Regions from separate parts of the Homo sapiens genome. Here region 1 is linked to region 2. The links come from fine-mapping of genetic effects on gene expression. A gene starts in region 2. The other region holds a variant in brackets. All regions are shown on one strand. Distances are from middle to middle.

The links. PIP is the estimated chance that this variant, and not a neighbour inherited with it, causes the effect. A credible set is the group of variants that fine-mapping cannot tell apart.
Region 1: its variant is the best candidate, but not a certain one, in a credible set for the expression of HTR6 in lymphoblastoid cells (GEUVADIS, PIP 0.52).

The regions. Positions count from the first base shown.
Region 1 is chr1:19,688,081-19,693,447 of GRCh38, reverse strand. The region is part of intron 15 of TMCO4 (transmembrane and coiled-coil domains 4); the gene reads left to right. Among named protein-coding and RNA genes, the nearest start is that of HTR6, 26 kb to the right of the region's middle. RefSeq lists an enhancer at 3,886-4,400. The variant G/A (reference allele first, on the strand shown) is at 2,334.
Region 2 is chr1:19,662,104-19,667,405 of GRCh38, reverse strand. It overlaps HTR6 (5-hydroxytryptamine receptor 6), which reads right to left and starts at 2,531. Exons shown (of 3, transcript NM_000871.3): 1 at 939-2,531. The coding sequence starts at 1,652. RefSeq lists enhancers at 766-1,736, 1,737-2,709 and a silencer at 2,488-2,717.

The sequences.
Region 1 (5,367 bases), 26 kb before region 2:
GGAGTGCAATGGTGTGAGCTCACTGCAACCTCCACCTCCCCAGTTCAAGCCATTCTCCTGCCTCAGTGTCCCGAGTAGCGGGGATTACAGGAGCCTGCCACTATGCCCGGCTAATTTTTGTATTTTTAGTAGAGATGGGGTTTCACCATATTACTCAGGCTGGTCTTGAACTCCTGACCTCAGGTGATCTGCCTGCCTCAGCCTCCCAAAGTGCTGGGATTATAGGCATGAGCCACCGTGCCTGGCCTTTTTTTTTTTTTTTTTTTTTTTTTTTTTTTTTTTTGAGATGGGGTCTCGCTCAGGCTGGAGTGCAGTGGCACAGTCTCGGCTCACTGCAACCTCTGCCTCCCAGGCTCTAGTGATCTTCCTGCCCCAGCCTCCTGAGTAGCTGGGACCACAGGTGTGCACCACCACATCTAGCTAATTTTTTGTAGTTTTGGTAGAAACAAGATTTCACCATGTTGCCCAGGCTGGTTTTGAACCCCTGAGCTCAAGCAATCCACCCACCTTGGCCTCCCAGAGTGCTGGGATTACAGGCGTGAGCCACCGTGCCTGACCAACTTCAGTTTTTTTAGACTTGAAAGAACCTCGTTCACCTGCCACATGCTATCCTAGGGAATTAATAGCTTCCCATGTGGACACTCACTCTATGTCCCGCTCTGCCCTAAGCCTATTTATTTATTTGTTTATTTATATTTTTGAGGTGGAGTTTCACTCCTGTTGCCCAGTCTGGAGTGCAATGGCGCGATCTCGGCTCACTGCAACCTCCGCCTCCCAGGTTCAAGCGATTCTCCTGCCTCAGCCTCCCAAATAGCTGGGATTATAGGCGCCTGCCACCACGCCCATCTAATTCTTTTTTTTTTTTTTTTTTTGTATTTTTAATAGAGATATGGTTTCGCCATATTGGTCAGGCTGTTCTCAAACTCCTGACCTCAGGTGATCCACCTGCCTTGGCCTCCCAAAGTGCTGGGATTATAGGCATGAGCCACCACACCCGGCCTGCCCTAAGCCTTTTACAGACATTACTGTCCCCATTGTACAGACAAGGTCACTGAGGCTTAGAGACATTCCAGGGTCACACCGCTGAAACATGGCAAAGCAGGACTCAAACCCAGGTCTGAAGCCAATAGATGTAGCCCCAGCCCAGGTAGATATGAGAACCAGTGGGAGAGGTGCTCCATAGGGGGAGGCGGGGAGGGGAGGAATAAGGAATAAGCTGTAACTACAAGCACAAGCCGACTTCAGCAATCAGGGGACCCTGAGAACAAAATCTTTGGTTTCTAGTTATTATGTTGCTGGCTGCCATTTATCAAGTGCCAAGTGCTTCCCACATGTAACCCAGTGTATTAGTCCATTTTCACGCTGCTGATAAAGACATACCAAGACTGGGTAATTTATAAAGAAAAAGAGGTTTAATGGACTCAATTTCACGTGGCTGGGGAGGCCTCACAATCATGGCGGAAGGTGAAAGGCACGTCTTACATGGCAGCAGGCAAGACAGAGAAGAGAACCAAGTGAAAGGGGTTTCTCCTTATAAAACCATTGGATCTCAGGAGACGTATTCACTACCATGAGAACAGGTTGGGGGAAACCACCCCTATGATTCAATTATCTCCCACTGGGTCCCTCCCACAACACATAGGATTTATGAGAGTACAATTCAAGATGAGATTTGGGTGGGGACACAGTTAAACCATATCACCCAGTTTCCACTCATGGTTGTTTGAGCAGCTGCTTCCTGCAGACAGACTAGACTCCTTTCTGGGCATCTAAAAATCCCCTGGTTTGAGGGGCATTCTGGCTTCCCCATTCAGGATCAGCAGCTGCCTGTTCTGATCACTCCACCACTGCATCTCAATGGCCAATGAAGCTAGGCCTCAGACCCACCCGTGCCACCACAGTGTGGCTCACACTGGGCTGCATGTGTTTTGAGACTTGACTGAGCATTTGATAACATGGGGGAATTATTGCACAAAAAAACAAAATCAAAACTTCACCAGGTGCTGCTGTCCATAAAGTCTGTCAGCCATGTCCCTGCCCAGAGGTCACCTGGGCCTCTCACCTGGCCTGACACCAGGTCGCTGGGGCCAGTTCACTTGTATCTTCACCCCTAAACTTCCAGGGCCTTAAGACAAAATTCCTAACCCACCAGAGGATCACAAATGAAGCCACCCTGTGCCTTCCTAACTGGGAGCTTTGGGGACTGGGGTAGAATAAGAGTCATTTCTAGGCTCATCCATTTATGAAACTGGTTGCTCCTGGTTAAAGAGTCTTCACAGGGGCCGGGTGCAGTGACTCACGCCTGTAATCCCAGCACTTTGGGAGGCCAAGGC[G/A]GGCAGATCACGAGGTCAGGAGATCGAGACCATCCTGGCTAACACAGTGAAACTCCGTCTCTACTAAAAATACAAAAAATTAGCCAGGTGTGGCGGTGGGCACCTGTAGTCCCAGCTACTCGGGAGGCTGAGGCAGGAGAATGGCATGACCCCAGGAGGTGGAGCTTGCAGTGAGCCGAGAGGGTACCACTGCACTCCAGCCTAGGTGACAGAGCAAGACTCTGTTTCAAAAAAAAAAAAAAAAAAAAGAGTCTTCACAGATAGACTTGGCTCACATGCTGTAAACCTCGCAACTCCCTAGAGGAGGTATTAAGCATCCCCAGATCATAGATTGGGAAACTGAGACTTGGGAGCATGGAGTCATAGCCAGAGTTGTAGGTCTGGACTCTGAGCCCAGCTTGGAAGCTGTGCTGCCCACTTCTCTGTGGGAATGAGGTAAGCTGAGTCACAAGACCAGCAAACCACAGTGACAGGAATTTTCTCTCAGCCCCTTGGCCACACTTGCAGCAGGGGCACCCCATCTACTCGGTCCACCACACTCAGCCCCTTGCAGGAGGAAGCACATGAATGAGCAAGTGTGGGCTCTGGCTGACCACTCCAAACACCGACACAAGAGCAAGCTCCATGCTGGGCCTGTGGCCAGACCAGGCGTGTTGCCTCGAGGGGAAAGTGGCAGCACCTGGGCAGGGGTACCCACAACCCTGAAGCCCCAGAGGGGGCGTTAGTGTGCTAATTAGCTGTTTTAGTTCCACCATTGACGGCCCAATAGACGGTGGTGTATTAACAGCTCAGTCGGCCCCTGACCCCATCACGTGGGGCAGCTGCCCTCCACTGATGAGGGCAAAAGGCCAGTATGACAGCCTTTCTGGGTACCCACACTCAGTGGGTCCCAAGCTCTTGTCCAGCATCCAAGAAGAATGAGGACACGCTGATAATTGAAGAGTGAGCAAGGCGAGGAGTTTTATTGAGTGATGAAACAGCTTTTTGCAGAGAGGGGATGAGTGGATGGTTCCCCTACCCAAAGGCAGGAAAGTCCCCACAATGTGGCTGAGTCTGGGGCTTTTATGGGCTCAGAATAGGGGAAGTGTGGGCAAACAGGAACAGAAGTTCTCACTCTGGGTCACAGGTTTCATGTGGGACCAGCAGTCCAGTCTTTCAGCCTTCAGGCTGTTTTTTTGGCTTGAAGGTGGGGTTTCACCAGGGACCCACCCCGTCTGCCTAGGCATTTGGCTGCCTCCTGTCACCATCAACAGGGCTCAGAGCTGATGCCTCCTGACCCATGTCCAGGGCTCTCTGTCCTATTCAAGGTGCCTGCACCCTGAATGGGGTGAAAGGGAGCAGGGACTTTGTGCCTCAGCACCCCAGGAGTCTCCCTTTGCCAGAAGAATCAGAGATAAAAAGCATCTGCTGAAGAAAGTAGCTTTTAATGCTGCAAAGCCCTCACAAGATCTGATTTCTACTGGGAATGGGATATGGTAGGAAGAGCACAGCCTTTGGCACCAGAGAGGCATGGCTTAGAATCCTGGCTCTGCCACTGGTTTACTGGCTGTGTGACCTTGGGCCAGTTACTTAACCTCTCTGTGTCTCAGTGTCCTCATCTAGGAAATGGTGGAAACGCCTAACTTCCAGGGCAGCGCATGTAAGATGCTTGGTGCATAGTAGGCCCTCCTTTAATCCTAGTCCCTCCCGGCCTGCCCCTGCCACCACCCCCAGTTTGTTTGCCTCTGGGACCAGCAGTTTTGGAGACTCCGCTCCCTCCTCAGGCTGTCTTCGTGGCAGCTTCCCAGCTCCTGCCTAATAATAGCTCTTTATCACATTAGGAGTACATCACAAAAAACAGTGCTTTCCTCTTCTGGGTAATTAGAGGTAATTAGCACTGCCTTTGTGCTGGCCTCCTGTTTTCCTTGAAAATGCTTTGCTGGAGAAGTTGCTGGCAAGGGAGGTTTCATTACTGCTGTTGGGGAAATGCTGGCCACCCTCTGCTCCCAACAGAGACCCACAGGACCTGTCTTCTCCCTGCTGGGCCAACCACGCAGCAGGGCCCTTTGTGATCATCCCACTGGGCTGGCCCTGTTGCAGGCAGGGCGCATCTCTGGGGTGAATGAAGCTGCCCTCCTGCCCCTCAGTCTCTCCTCACAGGGACAAGGTTACAGTGGGTGGGGGATTTGCCACCCCAGGGACCAACTCATGAGGCTTCTGGGGCACAGAGATCCAACCCACGGCAAGATTCTCCATGTCCCAGCAGAAATGCCAGGTGGCCTAGAACTTAGCAAAAGGCTTGGCACAAAGTAGATACTTGATAATAACCGCAGTAGCCAACAACTCACATGTTTTACGGGGTAAGTCATTTGATCCTCATAGAGGTCCTGCATAGTGGTAGTAACCCGTTGTACAGGTGTGAAAACTGAGGCTGCAGGCGGTGCCACGGCATGTGAGTGGTAGAGCCGGATGAACCTGGGCTGTTAACCACTGCTTCAGTACTGCCTGCATTCACACATCTCTGTAGCTTCTGGTAGTGGCCTCTAACCCTGTGCCAATAAGCCTGTTACATGTATTATCAAAGCCACACAGCCAGCCCACGTGGTATAGGTCTCTTTATTAGCCTCATTTTATACATGAGGAAATTGAGGTCCAAGAAGTGAAAGAACCCAAAGGGGCCTGATGGGCTTGGAAGGAGTCACTGGGGCAGATGGAGGTGGGTGATGGCAGCCTCTGTTTGGGTAAGTTGGGGTGTCTTTTGAGGCAGGAAACAGGAAGGGCTGGGCCCCATTTGTACCTGCAGGGATCTGGTTCCCACGGAAACCCCACGATGTGCGGGGCTGGCTGTGGGGCACAGAGGTGAGTGAGAAGTGGTCTCTGCTCCCCTGCGCTCAGTTTATCAGGGAACGCAACCTCATGAGCATGTGACGATGACAGGTTATGAGTGCCATCACAGGGTGTCCACAGAGGCCCCTGCCAACACGGGAAGCCACGGAAGGCTTCTGCACGCCAGTCACATCCGGCGTGTATCCAGGCAGCTGGCAGATTCAATCAA
Region 2 (5,302 bases):
AAAGCAAAAAAACTGATCTCAATATGTGTGACCCTCCTGGAGCTTATATTCAAGTCAGGGAGGCAAAATGAACAAGTCATTTTTATGACTTGTTCTTATGGAGAATAACAGGGATGGAGAGTGCAGATGGGCCTGCAGATAGGGTGGTCAAAGATGGCCCCTGGGAAGAAGGCAGCCGGGGGAAGAACATTCCAGGCACAGGGAACAGCAAGTGCAAAGACCTGGGCACAGAAGTAAGCCCAGTGCCTTCTAGAACCGTGAGAAAGGCCACAAGGCTGTTGCAGAGTAAGAGAGAGGGAGAGGGGAGGTGACACTGGAGAGGATGGCAGTGTGGGATCCTGAGGCCAGATCCTGAGACAGGTTTTCTTTATCTGGAGCACGGTGGGAAGCCTGAAGAGTCTGAAGCAGGGGAGTGACATGATCACTTCTTTTTTAAGTGCTCCAGCTTCTATGCAGAAGATGGAGAGTACTGGGTCTGCGGCAGAAGCAGGGGAGCCAGGAGAAGTCTACACAGCCTCCCCGGTAGGAAGTGGCAGGGGAGATGGCACCTGTTTAGAGCAGCGCCAACAGGTCTCGCTAATGAATGGCATGAGGGTGAGGGAGAAAAGTATTCCTAAGTTCCTGGCATGTGATGCCGCAATGGTGCCATTTGCCATGATGGGGAAGACCAGGGAGGCAAAGATGGGGAGAGTTGGGCCACCATAAATTCCCTGTTGTACATGGTACCTGGGAGAAGCCTGCCCCCAAATCCTGACGGAGCTATCCTGTGGTGGGTGGGTCAGGCATTGGCTCTGGAGTTCAGAAGAAAGGTGGGCGCTCACAACAGCCACGCAGGGCCATGAGCAAATGTGTGCTAAGTGGGGATGCCCAGGGGGTCCCCAGGGGCTGCTCATTCCTCTCTATCCCACAGCCCGGGTCTCCCTGCGCACCCCAGGTACCTGCAGCGTCTCCGAGGCCTGACTGGCCATGCCGGTGGTGAGGGAGGCCACCTGCACGGCCTGCTTGCGGGCAGCTAGCAGGATCCTGCAGTAGGTGAAGCATATGGCACCCGAGGGCAGGAAGAAGGTGAGGCCCGACGCCACAAGGACAAAAGGCAGGCTGGCCAGCAGGCGGCACTGGCCAGGGACGGGTGGCCGTGCGTGGCCCAGCTCGTGCCAGCCCAGCAGCAGGGGCAGGAAGGAGGCGAGAGCGGCGAGGCTCCAGGCGCCCAGGACTAGGGCCAGGGCACGCAGGGGCGTCATGCGCAGCTTGTAGCGCAGCGGCGAGAGGATGAGCAGGTAGCGGTCCAGGCTGATGAGGCAGAGGTTGAGGATGGAGGCGCTGCAGCACATCACGTCGAAGGCGGTCCAGAGCAGGCAGAGGCCGCGCGCCAGCACCCAGCGCCCGTACAGCGCGTTCAGCATGGCCGGCGGCATCACCACCAGCCCCACCATCAGGTCAGACGTGAAGAGCGACACCAGGAAGAAGTTGGACGTGTTGCGCAGCGCGGGCTGAGTGCAGATGAGCGCGATCAGCAGCGAGTTGGCCGCCGCCGTCAGCGCGATGACCACGCACAGCGCGGCCGCCACCCAGCCGCTGCCCCCCGGGGCCGACGGCGGCCCTGCCCCCCAGGCCGGGGTGCTATTGGCGGTTGGGCCCGGCTCTGGGACCATGAGGACCGAGGGTGGACGGCAAGGGAGTGATAGGGTGGCGGGAAAGCAGATGAGGGCCCCGGCGAAGCGCAGGCTGGACGGGGACCGTCCGTGAGAACAGACCGCGACTCACCACGCCCCCCGGGGGAGGTGAGTGGGGGGACATGGGCGGGGGCGCTGGGTCGCGCTAGGTCAGGGGGCAGCGACTACAGGAGGACACAGTGTGGCTATTTGGGCGCCCTCGGGGATGGGGCAGGAACTCCTGGAGCAAACGGGTTGGAAGTTTGGGGAGGGGCACCCGATGAGCCGAGGCCCCTGAAGGAAGCGGCGGGAAGTCAAGCAGAGGTCGGATGGGCTCCCTGGGGTGGGAGCAGAGCCCCCTGGAGGGGGCGGGCGGCAAGATAGGGGAGGGGCGTCCGGCCGGGTCAGAGTGCGGGGAAGTGGGAACGCGGGGAGGTGGGTGAGGGGGGTGAATGGGCGCTCTCGGGCCGGAGCAGGCTCCCCGCGGCCGGTGGGCGTGTGGGGTACCAGGGCGGGGGCCTAGGGGCCGGAGCAAAGCCGCCCCTGGGAAAGGCAGGTCTCAGCTGGCGCGGAGGCACCGGGATCCGGCGCACACGGCCTGTGCGGCGCGGGGGTTCGCCGGGGCCGCCAGGCCCCGCGGGAAGAGGAGGGCAGCGGCCGCGCGGCGCCCCCTCCCCACCCGGCAGCAGGGTCGCCTCCGTCTCCCGCCCGCACTGGTACCTGGGGCGCTCTGGCTGCTCCGCCGCCTGCGACTGCGGCAAGCGCCGCGGGGCTGCGAGAGGAAGAGGCGGCCGCGGGCCGGGCGGGCGGCGGGACCGGGTCTCCCGAGCCCGGGAGGCGCCGCGAGGGGCCCGCACGCGCGGAGGAGAGGCCGGGTGCAGCCTGGAGCGCGCGGTCCCCGCGCCGCGGAGCGTGCGCCCCGCCTCGCGGTGGGCGGGGAGAGCCGAGCCCTGGCCCTGCAGGAGGGCGGGGTCCCGGCACCCCGGGCCTGTGGGCCGAAGATCAGAGCGCCCCAGCTGCGAGGGGTCACCTCCCGGGCTGTGGCAGCCCCCACACCCTCAGATGCCCCTCCCAACCCACACGTGGCGGCGGCGCAGGCGGAACTGGGAGCAGGGGGCTGTGACCTGCCCTTATCCAGGGGCTGCTCTCTAATGGGTGCCTGCCCACTCACAACGGGGTCACCGGGCTTTCAGGGGAGCCAGGAGTTGGGAAATATTGGACAAATCGCCTGACACCCCTCTGGGCCTCAGTTGCCATATCTGTAAAATGGGTTAGTAATTCTGGGCATTCTTCACCGTTAGTTTGAGCAAGAAGCTAACCTTCCCCAGGGCCTTTCCCGCAGAAACCATCCCGATCCCCAAAGGGGCCAGGTACTAAGGATGAAGTCCCTGAGCTGTTGGCGCTCCTAGTCTAACAGAGCGTGAACAGATTTGAGAATCCCCAGGCCAGGTGTGTTAAGAGTCGCTGCAGGCAGAGGCGTGGGGTGTGGTTTCCCCTGGGTGTGACCTCCCTCTGTACGTCTCCCCTCTGGCTGAGAAGAGTCTCTGCCTAACACTGCTGTGCAGGTTAATACTGTTATTCATTCATTCATTGAACAGATACTTCAATGCATCTTTTAAGGCGCATCCACTAGATGTCAGGCACTGTTCTGACCCATCAGGACACTACAGTGGCCAAAACAAAGATCCGCACCTCCATGGAGCTTACATTCTAGTGGAAGAAACAGACAATAAACAATAAGCATAATCAACAGAGAAAGTGGGCCCAGCGAGGTGGCTCACGCCTGTAATCCCAGCACTTTGGGAGGCGGAGGTGGGCAGATCACCTGAGGTCAGGAGTTCGAGACCAGCCTGACCAACATGGTAAAACCCCGTCTCTATCAAAAATACAAAAATTAGCTGGGCGTGGTGGCGGGAGCCTGTAATCCCAGCTATTCGGGAGGCTGAGGCAGGAGAATTGCTTGAACCTGGGAGGCAGAGGTTCCAGTGAGCCAAGATTGTGCCACTGCACACTCCAGCCTGGGTGACAGAGCAAGACTCTGTCAAAAAAAAAAAAAAAAAAAAAAAAAAAAAGGAAAGAAAGAAAGAGAGAAAGGAAAGAAAGAGAAAGAAAGAAGAGAAAGAGAAAAAGAAAATGTAGTATAAAGAGAACGGGGTGGGATCATTTTTTCTCCACAGAAACAGAAAAATAATACTTTCCAAATCGAAGGCTCCTGCGCTGTCCCCAGGGGCTTTGTTGTACGGTTCCTACTCCTCCAGTTATTTATTCCGACCCCTACAATAATGCTGAGAGGTAGACGTTAAACTGGGGTTCAGAGAGGCCAAGGGCCTTGCCCCAGATCACCAGCAGCAAGTGGTGAAGTGGACCTGAAACCCAGATCTGCTCGATGCCCATGGCAAAGAGAGCCCATTACAGATGGTCAAAAACCTCCCCTCAGGCACCTCAGAGCCTGCAGCACCCACCCGCCAACTCTAAGCTGCTATTTGGTGCTCAGAGCCCCAGCCTTGCCCACAGAAGCATCTTTTAAGCAGATAGAGGAGGCCTGTCCTTCCTCCTTGCCACCACACTGCACCACTGTGACGATTTCTGCCATGCCCCCAAGGAACAGAACGTAGTACAGCAAGCCTGGGCAGAGAGTCAGAAACACATGGCTTGGGATCCCCGCTCCATCCCAGCTCTGGGATTACAGGGCCAGTGGCTCCATCTCCTTGGGTCACAGCTTTCTCTTCTGTAATAGTTAGCAGAACAATATGGCACCCACCTCACAGAGTAGCTGAGGGGATTAAATGACACTGATGTAATCTGTGTCTTTGATACTATGTTAACACTAGCTGGCCGGGCACAGTGGCTCACGCCTGTAATCCCAACACTTTGGGAGGCCAAGGCGGGCAGATCACCTGAGGTCAGGAGTTCGAGACCAGCCTGGTCAATATGATGAAACCCCGTCTCTACTAAAAATACAAAATTAGCCAGGTGTAGTGATGCACGCCCATAATCCCAGCTACTCAGGAGGCTGAGGCAGGAGAATCACTTGAACCCACAAGGCAGAGGTTGCAGTGAGCTGAGATCACACCACTGCACTCTAGCCTGGGCAAAAACAGCGAAACTCCATCTAAAAAAAAAAAAAACAAAAAAACAAAAAAACAAAAAAAAAACCTAGCTCTTGGCTTTAGTGTTCCCATCAGCACAATCGTAATGCATTCAGCTCTGTGCTAACTCCTTGAGCCCAGGGATTTCTGACGTGAACAGCTGCAACCCTGAGAGGTGCTGTGTGGAAGGATTTTGGAGCCCAGCATCCTGGGTTCATCATCCAGAGTCTGCCACTTGCTCTGTGAAGTTGTGCAAAGCCTCTTAAATTCTCTGCTGCTATGAAACCAAGGCAGTGGAGCTGTGAATGAGATGAGTAAAAAATTTTGCCTGATAAATGTTGCTTTGTAAAAATCTGTAGGTAGTGCATAGAATATTAGTCTTTCTGCTTTCACTTTTCCCACAATACTTGATATCTTTTATTTTAAAAAAAAGACCTAAAGATTAGCTGAGCGTGGTGGTGCACGACTCTAGTTTCAGCTACTTGTGAGACTGAGGTGAGAGGATTGCTTGAGGCCAAGTGTTCAAGGCTGCAGTGAGCTATGATCACACGTGTGAATAGC